3 linked regions of the Homo sapiens genome follow. The protein of the gene in region 1 interacts with the protein of each later gene in a pairwise test. Each region holds a gene or a part of one and is shown in the gene's direction. Other genes may lie near its edges. The genes, in order: CCM2L, CAMK2B and USE1.

Region 1 (3,744 bases):
TTTTTCATCAACATAGTAACATTACAGCAGCTACTGTTTATTGCTTATAGCCCATAATTCTAAGTGTTCTACAAATATTAACTCCTCTAATTCTCATGATGACACTAATTATTATTATCCCATTATACAGATGGAAAAATTGAGAAATAGAGAAATTAAGTTTAGTTTTCCCAAGGTCAAGCACCTAGTAAGTTGTAAGTATGGGATTTGAACAGAAGAAGGCTGGCTCCAGAATCCAGTCCTTTAACCACAAAGCTACACGGCTTCTTTGTAGGTAATAATGGAGGATGGTTCTGGAACAATTTAGAGACAAGGAGGCAGGAGCCTAAGGTTGAGTTTTTATTAAGCAATATTTCTTGAGTACCTCCTATGTGCCAGGCACTCTGCTGTGTGCTGGGGATACAGATGGACACAAGACAGAGGGCAAAACCTGGGCCTGGCACATAGTAGGTGTTCAACAAATGAAGAAAACCAAAGTCCCTGCTCTTGTCAAGTTTACAGTCTAGGATAGGAGGCAATGAAATCGCAATTTAACAGTAACAATCATTAATGGTAATAAGTACTAAAGGGAGGCTCAGGGTGCTATAAGAGAGGCAGAGGGGGACCGCAACTCAGCTGGAGAGTCAGGAGGGCCTCTCAGAGGTGATGGCACATGAACTGAGGCTTGGAGGATGAAAGGGGGAAGAGTGTTCCAGGTAGAGGGAACAGCAAATGTAAGAATCCTGAACTAACCAGGCGTGGTGGCTCACGCCTGTAATCCCAGCATTTTGGGAGGCTGAGGTGGGCAGATTGCTTGAGGTGAGGCATTTGAGAGCAGCCTGGACAAACATGGTGAAACCCTGTCTCTACTAAAAATACAAAAATTGGCTGGGTGGCACATGCTTGTAGTCCCAGCTACTCAGGAGGCTGAGGCATGAAAATTGCTTGAACCCGGGAGGCGGAGGCTGCAGTGAGCCAAGACCGCACCACTGCACTCCAGCCTCAGTGACAGAGCAAGAATCTGTCTCAAAAAAAAAAAAAAAAAATTTTGAACAGGATAGAGCTTAGTGGGTTTGAGGGGCAGCAGGTGGCCACTGTGGCTGTGGCAAATGGTGTGAGGGAGAGAGTGGTCAGAGAGGATGCTTGGGGGTACCTGGAAAGGCCATGCATGTCACAGGTAGGCCATGGACTGAGGGAGCATGTTCGACAGAGGTTCTAACCCAACCTAGGGGAATTAGGGAACACTCTCCTGAGGAGATGACATTTAAGATCACGGGATGAGTAAGAGTTAGCTGTGCAAAAGGGAGGGGAAAGGAGGCAATCCAGGCAGAGGGACCAGCAGGTGCAAACACCCAGAGGTGAGGAGATAGTAGAGGAAGAAGGAGAAGGGGGGTGGGGGGCGCGAAGCACAAAGAGCAAAGGCAAAGGCAAGCACAGTGACAGATGAGACTTGAGAGGTGCCAGGGGCCAGGGTATGCGAGGCCTTGGAGGCCAGCATGCAGTCTAGGATGAGGCCTCCTACCTTCAGCCTGCCTGAGGGCCAGGAGCTGGAGGGAGGCGAGTGAAGGCCCTTCTTCCCGTGCCTGCAGTAATGGCTCCCAGGACACCTTTGAAGCATGTTACAGCGGCACGTCCACACCTTCTTTCCATGGCTCCCACTGCAGCGGCAGCGACCACAGCAGTCTGGGCTTGGAGCAGTTACAGGATTACATGGTCACGGTGAGCTGGGGCCGGTGGTGGGAATGGCACAAGCAAAAGCCTGGAGGCTGGAGTAAACATTTTGGGAATGGCACATTGCCCTGGACATAACCTAAGCAGAAGACATCAGAGGTCAGAGCAGGAAATGAGGTTAGGAGAGTAAACTGAGGCCAGCTTGTGAAAGGCCTTAACTAATGTCAGCTGGCATTAATTGAGTGCCTGCTGTATACCAGGCACCATTCTAAGCACCTTTCATGCATTATTTCTTTTAATCTTTTCAACAACCCCAAGAAGAAAATACCATCATTATCCTCACTTTGCAGATGAGAAAAGCAAGCATCATGGAGGTTGTCACCTACCCAAGATCACAGAGCTGATCCAGTGAAGGGGTCAAGATTTGCACTCAGGCAGCTTGAGTCCACATCCTATTCTTAAATGCAGCCTAAGGGATCTAGATGTCCTCTGAATAGCCCATGGGAAGGTTTTCAGAGGAGAGCTGGACCAAACATGCCCTTAGGGAAGGCTCTGGGCCTTTCAGGCAGGGGTTGGGTGGCGCTGCTTCCTGGGATTGATCTCGAATGGTGTCCCCCACATAGTTGCGGAGTAAGCTGGGGCCCCTCGAGATCCAGCAGTTTGCGATGCTGCTGCGGGAGTACCGGCTGGGGCTGCCCATCCAGGACTATTGCACAGGCCTGCTGAAGCTCTACGGAGACCGGCGCAAGTTCCTCCTCCTTGGTGAGCCCCCGCTGTACCCCCAGAGGTCAGCTAGGGCCCCTGCTTGGTCCATGCCATCCCAGTCAGGCACCAGGCTGCAAATGTTTTCTCCTTATCTTTCAGCCTCTGATGAAACCCAGATCATGAGATTCACAGGGCAGATGAGGAGCCCAAAGTGCAGAGTAGGGAAAGGACTTGTCAGAGCTGGGAGACACTGTTGATAAGAAGAACTAAGCAGTGGTGTGGCCATTTCATCCTCACAGCAAAGCTGCGAGAGGGACTGATTCTTCCCATCTTACCCCACACGGAAGCTGAGGCTCAGAAAGGCTAAGGAACATGTCCAAGGTCACACAGCTAGTAAGGAGGGCTAATAATAACAGGAGGAATAATACGAATAAGCTGACATGTGCTTGGCAGTTACCCTGTGCCAAGCATCATCTCATTAAATGCCCCCAGTTCTGAGAAGTAGATACTATTAATGGTCCCCATTTTGCAGGTGAGGAAACTGAGACTCAGAGTTACAAAGTAAAGGACTGAGGTCACATAGCTAGTAAGTAGGAATGGAAATAAAACAAACTGTTTACAGAGTGCTCAGTATGTGCTGAGTACCTTGTTATTTAATCCTCACATCCCTACCCAGAGAACAGGTGCAATTATCTGTTTTACAGGTGAGGAAAATGAGGTTCAACATAATTAATCAATGGGAATATAATGATGGTACTAATAATAACAAAAATAGGCCTGGCGAGGTGGCTCACACCTGTAATCCCAGCACTTTGGGAGGCTGAAGCTGGCGGATCACCTGAGGTCAGGAGTTCAAGACCAGCCTGGCCAACATGAAACCCTGTCTCTACTAAAAATACAAAAATTAGCAGGGCGTGGTGGTGTGCGCCTGTAATCCCAGCTACTTGGGAGGCTGAGGCATGAGAATCTCTTGAACCCGGGAGGCAGAGGCTATAATAATAATAATAAAAGTACAGTAATCTAGTATGTAGTGAGCATTCACTGTGTGCTGAGCGCTGTGTCGTTATTCGCTGGCTCAGACAGTTAAGGACCTTGGGCAAGGCCACACAGCCAGTGAGTGACAGCAGGGATTTGCACCCAGATCTGCAGAGAGGACGCTTCCCCTGTGGAAGGGAAAGGGAACGTGTCCTGGGGACTCACCATGCCCCTCGGCTCGCAGGGATGCGGCCCTTCATCCCGGACCAGGACATCGGCTACTTCGAGGGCTTCCTGGAGGGCGTGGGCATCCGCGAGGGCGGCATCCTCACTGACAGCTTCGGCCGCATCAAGCGCAGCATGAGCTCCACGTCGGCCTCCGCAGTGCGCAGCTACGATGGCGCGGCGCAGCGG
Region 2 (3,744 bases), on another chromosome or scaffold:
GGATGCATCCAGCAGGTGCTGGAAGAAACTCCTGTGGGGTTAAACACAACGCCAAGAACAAACCTCAGACTTGGCCTCCAGTCCTTTCTCGAGCCCATGCCAGTCTGTCTGTTAGGATGGCCCAGGATTCTCTGAGTCCAAGTCTGACATAGACGGGGTCTCCCTTCCTGCTATGGTCCTGCTGAAGTCAAGGCCAGGATCCCTCTGCTTCCTCAGCTGGGGACTTCCCCAGGTGGCCCAGCATTTGCCTTTGGCCTGAGAATTTCTCGTCCTCTAGTGTCTTCTGGGTGCAGGTGGGTCGATGGCAGGGACTTGTTGCCGTGTGGTCTACTAATTGCCCAGCAGTCCCATGCCAAATGCATCCTGGCCCAGAAGGGCCCTGGCTGCCAGCACTCAGAATGCCTTTATCCCCTCCCTTATCCACATGACATTTATTGTGGCTTCTGGGGCTTGCCCTGGGCTGGCCACGAGGTGAGAGGGATGAGCAGGATAGGCCCAGAATTGGTCCTTGGGGAGCAGTAAGGAAGTCATATCAGGGCAGCAGCGTGACCCAAATCCAGAGCTGGCTGCTGGAAACCCCCTCCTCAGAGCCTGCCCAGGATGGACCCCGTCAGAGAAGAGTGTGGGGATGCTGGAGCCCAGTGGTCTAAAGTCCCGGTTCTGGACAGCAGCCCTGGTGCCAGGCCTCAGGGAAGGCTGTTTTGTGGGAAACCGGGTCGCCCTGCCTCCTGCCTGCCTCCCTGCACTCTCCTCCTCCTTGGCTGCTTTCAGGAGGGGGTTGGGGTGTGTGGGCCCTCCTCCTCCAGGCAAAAGCAGGGGGCAGGCAGGTGGACCGTGCTGGAAAAGGAGAGAATGTGCACCTTTACCTGATCAGGGTGGCTGTGAGCTCTCAGGCCCCCCAAATTGCTGGTGGAGCAGCCCCTGTTCCCCTGGCTCAGGGTCCGTTGGTCTGGACTCCGAATGTTGCCTCCTGGGACCTCCATTCCAGACAACCCAGCAACCAGTCTTTGGAGAAGTGAGGGGGAAGGGAGGGGCTGGGGCCAAGGGGAGGGGGCAGGCCCCACCCTTTCACTTTCTCATGCTAGTGACCCAGTGTGTACACTGCCTTCTGGGCGGTTCCTCCTGGCCAGGCAGCCTTTGGGGCATGTGTGGCTGATGGAGACTGGGCAGAAGGGATCTGGCAGCATCTCTTCCTGAGGGTGTGAGGAATGAGTCCTGTGGAGGGCAGCACATGAGCCCTCTACCTCCATGTGGGCCCCAGTCCCCTCCTGCTGTCAGGCTAGGTGGGCCTTCGAGAGAGAGAGAGGAGGCTGCGTTCATTATGTGCACTCTTCTGTGTTATGTGAGAGCGAGGGGTCGGCAGCAGCAAGTGGCCTGCGTGCGCGAGGTGCGGGCGTGGTGCGGGTAGAGGATGAAGGCGTCAGTACAGGGCGCGGGTGTGTGTGTGGGGTGCGGGGGCGGGCGGGGGCGGGCGCGCGTGTGAGTGCAGGTGCAGGTGCAGGTGCGTTGCGGGTGCGGGGCAAGGGTGTGTGTGCAGGGCGCGTGTGCAGATGCAGGGCGCCGGTGCCCTGCGGGTGCGGGTGCAGGAGCAGCGTGTGCAGGGCGCGGGGAAGGCGCGTGCAGGGGGCGGCGGGCGGGGCGGGCGCGGCGGCGGCGGCGGTGACAGCGGCGCCCGCGCCTCCCCGCGCGTAGGTGTGCGGCGCGCTCCTGGCGAGGACGGAGCGAGCAGATCTCGCGTGCGCTCGCCGCCCGGCGCAGCCCAGCCCGGCCCCCGCCTGGCGCCGCGAGCCGAGGTGTCTCCCGCGCCCGCGCCCGTGTCGCCGCCGTGCCCGCGAGCGGGAGCCGGAGTCGCCGCCGCCCGAGCGCAGCCGAGCGCACGCCGAGCCCGTCCGCCGCCGCCATGGCCACCACGGTGACCTGCACCCGCTTCACCGACGAGTACCAGCTCTACGAGGATATTGGCAAGTAAGAGCAGCGGCGCGCGCGGGCTGGGCCGGGGACCCCAGAGGGCCGGGACCTCCGGGACCCTCCGCGCCGCCGGCTCCAGGCGCACTGCGGGCCCGCGCGCCGCCGGCTTCTCTGGGCTCCGGGCCCAAGCGCACGGCCCCGCGCGGCCCCGACCCGCGAGCCCCCGGCCCCGGGCCTGGCTGCCTGACCTCAGCGCGCGCGGCCCTGCCCAGCTCTGCCCAGCGCGGCTGCCGGGCCGGGGCTCCGGGCTCGCGACTTGGCGCGGCGGGGGCGGCAGCAGGTGTCCCCGGAGCGCCCGGCAGACGTGACGCATTTGGCGGCGGGGAGGTCAGAGAGGAGGGGCGCGCGGGGGTGGCCCCCGGGCCTGGAGCGCCGGGAGGGGTCGGCTGCGGCCCCAGAGGGTCGTCCCCGACGCGGGTGCGCTGTCCCCACCCCCACCCGAGCGGCAGGCGGCGGGGGTGGCGGGACCTGCTTGCGCCTGCTCCTGCGCGTGGCCCCATCCGCGCTGGGGGTGCCGGCGTGGGAGAGCCTCTGCTGTAGGTCCCCTGGGGAATCTGGGTTCTGGAGGATTTTCCCCCAGATTCTTCTGGAAACAGGAATTTGGAGGTGTGGGGAGGACGAGGTCAGGGAGCCTGGATCAGGTCATGGGGATAGCGGGGAGAGACTAAGAGCCTGACTGGATTGCAAATTTCAGGGTCATCGAGGTGGATGGGGGCTGGATTTTGGACTGTTGGCGGGGGCGCCCTAAAGGGGAAGGGGCTTTGAAGGTTTGTTTGAAGTGGGACCTCACGGGGAACAGGTGCTGTGGCTCCCGTTCTCTCCTTGGCAGTATGAGCAGTGTAGGGCGAAGGTCTGGTTCGTGGTCCCCGGACCCGGCTTTGCCCCTGGGGTGAGATGGGGAGCGCCTCAGGGGCCTCCTGTCTGGCCTGGGGTCTCCCGTTCTGAGAATCAAGGTGGCTGCACCTGGCATCCCTAGGGCTAGCTTCAGAACTCCTGAATCTCCAGCCTGACTGGGCCAGAGCCCCATCCTCCTGCGTCCTCCCCCATCCTCCTCCGTCCCTTCAGTGCAGGCGGTGGGGGCGCTGGCGGTGCTGGCGAGATTTCCTCTTACACATCCAGCAACAGATCCTTTTTTTCCTTTACTAAATAAGTGTCTGGTGAAACCTTGTGGTGGGTGAGGGACGCTGATCATTGATAATTGTGGAGTGCGGAGCTGGAGGAGTGTGGGGGTGTGTTCATTCCCCACTTCTCCCTGCACGTGTGGAGAGAATTCTGGTAGGGGTTAGGGATGTGGAGCCCAGCCCTGCAAGAAGCCCATGCTGGATGGGTGGGGTGGGGGGCCAGGCTGGCTGGGGGACCCTTCCTTGGGTGGATCTGGAGAGCACCACAGGGCTGAGACCTCGAGGGAGAGGGCGAGCCCAGCCCCCTTCATGCGGATCCCTGAGTGGGTGGCTGGCTCCCCGGTCTTCACCCCTCAGATGCACCGATCTACCCCCGTCTGTCCTCTTGGCCTCCAGAGGTGTCCTGGCCACTGGAGGGGCAGGTGGGTGGCAGTTAATGTGCCTGGTTCTCTGAGGAAGAGAGCAACAGTGGGAAGTCAGTCTTTCCTCAGGAGCCTTCTTGTTGTCTTTTCTGCTTGCGCTCAGAAGCACAGAGGCCCTCACAGCAGGTGTCCCTGGTCTTCTCCAAAGAAGCCACTTTCAAGACCTCCCCATGTGCACCCAGTGTCCTCAGACTGCAGCTCACTCTGGCTGTTCCTTCTTCCCTTTGCTGCGA
Region 3 (3,744 bases), on another chromosome or scaffold:
AAAGTTCTGTCTTGATCCTCCACCAAACAGGGAGCTCCCAGCAGAGCCTCACTTGGCCAGGAGCGCCTGCTGTCCTGGCAGCCCTCTCTGGCCTCCCTGATTCAGTGCCCAGCCTCTGGAGCCTAAATGTCAGCTGCAGCAGCCACCCATCCAGCAGAGGTGGCCAGTTCCTGGTGGGCCCAGCAGGACAGGAACAGATGGGCTCCCAGGCTGCCATCGGATGGGAGTCGTGGGAACTGGCTGGCTGGTATTGGTTGGGGCACCGTGAAGAACCCAAGTTCAGACAGCACATGCCAGAGGTTGAGGGGCTTCTCCAAGGCCACACAGTTGGGAGGGGCATGGCTGGGATTTAGACTCTGCCCTGCCAGCCTCTAGAGGCCCCTTTGATGGGCCCTGGGTTTGGTCTCCATTGTTTGTTGTGGGTTTTTTTCTTGAAACACGGTCTCGCTCTGTCACCCAGGCTGGAGTGCAGTGGCGCGATCTCGGCCCACTGCAGCCTCCACCTCTCGGGTTCAAGCGATTCTCCTGCCTCAGCCTCCCGAGTAGCTGGGATTACAGGCACGCACAACCAAGCCCAGCTAATTTTTGTGTTTTTTGATAGAGACAGGGTTTCACCATGTTGGCCAGGCTGCTCTCCAAACTCCTGACCTCCAGTGATCCATCCACCTCACCCTCCCAAAGTGCTGGGATTACAGGCGTGAGCCACCGCACCTGGCCCTCCATGGTATTTTCTTTTTTTTTTTTTTTTTTTGAGACGGAGTCTTGCTTTGTTGCCCAAGCTGGAGTGCAGTGGCACAATCTCGGCTCACTGCAACATCCACCTCCTGGGTTCAAGCGATTCTCCTGCCTCAGTCTCCCAAGTAGCTGGGATTACAGGCACCCACCATCACGCCCGGCTAATTTTTGTATTTTTAGTAGAGACGGGGTTTCACCATGTTGGCCAGGCTGGTCTCAAACTCCTGACCTCAGGTGATCCATCTGCCTCAGCCTCCCTAAGTGCTGGGATTACAGGTGTGAGCCACCGCACCTACCCGTCTATGATATTTTTCAAGGACATCAGGCCCACTGGTGTAACCAAGGTGCAGATGACCTAAGGTGTGGGAAAACATGAAGGCTGCATGCCAGGCCCTGGTTCCTGTGAAGCCCCCACCCTCATCCTGTCACTCCAGAAGAGAGGCACTGCAAGGCATAGGGGTACTCAGCTTCCAGGTACTGAGGTGGGCTGGGAAGGGGTTCTCCATGGGGGTCTGGGCGTTAGGGGGGACCCAGCCCCACCTTGCTCACTCTCAGGCAGAGCTGTCTCATGTGCCCCTTGAGGCAGGTACTGTCACACTGTCCATTTCCCGGGGGAAGAAGCGGATCCAGAAAAGTTAAACTCTCCCAGGGCCGAGGATGGAATCAGAGCTGGAGCTGTGACCTGGAAACCCATAACCACAATACAGATGAGCCCTGCTGAGGTGGGGGAAGCCTTGGATTCCTGAATCCCAGGCTACAGAAATCGGGAAGGGTGTGTGGACGTGAAATAGCTCCGACTGGGAAGAATCCAGGTAGGAGTGGGGTGCGGGGAGGTACTTTGAGCAGGCAAAACAGAACAAAAGGGCACACTGCACGCGGGTCTGACACCAGAAGACCCCGGTCGTCCTATCATTCCCGAAGGGTTAACATGCTCTCGAGGAAAAGCAAGTGATTCGCCTAAGTAAGAATGGGGTGGCGCCTCTCCTATTTTTTTAAAATAGAGATAGAGTAGCGCTATCTTGCCCGGGCTGGCCTCAAGCAATCCTTTCCCACCTCTGCCTCCTAAAATGCTGGCATTACAGCCCTGAGCCACCGCGCCCGGCCCAGCGCCCCGTCTCAAAACAAGATATTACTTCCGCTCCAAACAAAGATGGGCCAGCTAACGAGCGCGGGGGAAACATCCGCCCGGAAGGCCACTTGAAGGCACTTCCGCCCTCTCTTAACATGGAGCCGGCGGAAGGGGTGGTGTAGGGCCGGGCGATAATGGCGGCGTCGAGGCTGGAGCTAAACCTGGTGCGGCTGCTATCCCGCTGCGAGGCGATGGCAGCGGAGAAACGGGACCCGGACGAGTGGCGCCTGGAGAAGGTGAGGGGATCTCGCACTGCCGCGTAGAGCCCGACTCCCGGGGGGTGATTCCTAGGGTTGGAAGCCACCTGGCCCGACTCCCCGGCCCCAGTAGCCTCTCGGGCAGCGCCCTTTCCGGTCAGTCCCGCCACGTCCACCTGTAGCTTCCGCCCCCGTCCCTGGGACTCCGCCCCTCCCCCACTGGCCCCGCCTCCTTTACGCTTGACCCCTCCCATTTGTCGGCCCCGCCCCCCCGACTCCCATGATCAGGACATGGGAAAGACCCCCGGGTGACAATCCACTTTTCCTCCCCAGTACGTGGGAGCCCTAGAGGACATGTTGCAGGCCCTGAAGGTCCACGCGAGGTGAGTGCAGGCAGCCTCAGGGCTTTCACATCAGCACGTGGCTGTGCTACTGGACATCCCAGTACCGCTATCCCAGCTGGGACCCTTCCCTGAGCTGGGGACCATGGACAGGTTTTGTTTTTCTTCTTCCTGCCTTCCAGCAAACCGGCCTCTGAGGTGATCAATGAATATTCCTGGAAGGTGGATTTTCTGAAGGGGATGCTGCAAGCCGAGAAGCTGGTGAGAAGGGGTGCCCCTGCCCCCTCAGCCCCCATCACCGCTCACTTTGGTCCCCAGGACCTGCCCCTCCAGTGACTTATCTTCCCACATTTCTGCAGACCTCCTCCTCAGAGAAAGCACTGGCCAACCAGTTCCTGGCCCCTGGCCGTGTGCCAACCACAGCCAGAGAGCGAGTGCCCGCCACAAAGACGGTGCATCTGCAGTCACGGGCGCGGTACACCAGCGAGATGCGGAGTGAGCTACTAGGCACGGTAGGGCTCCTTCCCTGGTCCCTGGGAATCCCTTGGACAGGAATAGGGGTTCTATGCTTGTAGGCAGCCAGAACCACAATACTGTCAGATACAGGAACCCTAAGGGGGTCCAGCAATCTCTTCCCTGGGTCATCACACAAGGCTGCCCAACAGAGGGGCATTGTGGCTAAGGCTTTGCTAGATGAATAGGAATTTGGTACAAGGCAAAAATGGAATGTGTCTGGTTAAGCCCCAGAGTTGGCCCAAGAGCAGGGTTTGAGTCCTGGCTTGCAACTTACAAGACACATAAGTTTCTTCAGCCGTAAAAGAGGATGACAAGTTCCTTTCTGAGCACTTTATGTGGATCAGCTCAATCTTTTAAAATATGAGTTGTTGTGGCCAGGTGCGGCAGCTCACGCCTGTAATCCCAGCACTTTGGGAGGCCGAGGCGGGCGGATCATTTGAGGTCAGGAGTTAAGACCAGCCTGACCAACATGGAGAAACCCCGTCTTTAGTAAAAATACAAAATTAGCTGGGCATGGTGGCTCACGCCTGTAATCCCAGCTACTCGGGAGGCTGAGGCAGGAGAATCGCTTGAACCCAGGAGGCAGAGGTTGCGGTGAGCTGAGATCAAGCCATTGCACTCCAGCCTGGGCAATAAGAGTGAAACTCCGTCTCAAAAAAAAAAAATATGAGTTGTCGTTACCAGTTTAAGGTTGAGGAAACAGGCTCAGAGGTCATGGGATTTCCCCATGTCCTGACTGAAGGTGAGGAGGTTGAGGTCAGAAGGGACAGGTTTGGGAACAAGACAAGGGGGGTGACTTCATGGCATTTACTTTTTTTTTTTTTTT

The links.
Region 2: the proteins of CCM2L (region 1) and CAMK2B interact in binary tests that used the Homo sapiens proteins (3 or more experiments, as listed by UniProt).
Region 3: the proteins of CCM2L (region 1) and USE1 interact in binary tests that used the Homo sapiens proteins (3 or more experiments, as listed by UniProt).

What each region holds. Positions count from the first base shown.
Region 1 is NC_000020.11:32,027,427-32,031,170, forward strand, and holds part of CCM2L (cerebral cavernous malformations 2 protein-like), read left to right. Parts: intron 1-1,568; coding exon 1,569-1,698; intron 1,699-2,273; coding exon 2,274-2,412; intron 2,413-3,496; coding exon of another isoform or gene 3,497-3,574; coding exon 3,575-3,744.
Region 2 is NC_000007.14:44,323,578-44,327,321, reverse strand, and holds the start of CAMK2B (calcium/calmodulin-dependent protein kinase type II subunit beta), read left to right. Parts: upstream 1-1,727; 5' UTR 1,728-1,900; coding exon 1,901-1,965; intron 1,966-3,744. UniProt on the Homo sapiens protein: Calcium/calmodulin-dependent protein kinase that functions autonomously after Ca(2+)/calmodulin-binding and autophosphorylation, and is involved in dendritic spine and synapse formation, neuronal plasticity and regulation of sarcoplasmic reticulum Ca(2+) transport in skeletal muscle.
Region 3 is NC_000019.10:17,213,408-17,217,151, forward strand, and holds the start of USE1 (vesicle transport protein USE1), read left to right. Parts: upstream 1-1,949; 5' UTR 1,950-1,998; coding exon 1,999-2,100; intron 2,101-2,394; coding exon 2,395-2,444; intron 2,445-2,584; coding exon 2,585-2,663; intron 2,664-2,761; coding exon 2,762-2,914; intron 2,915-3,744.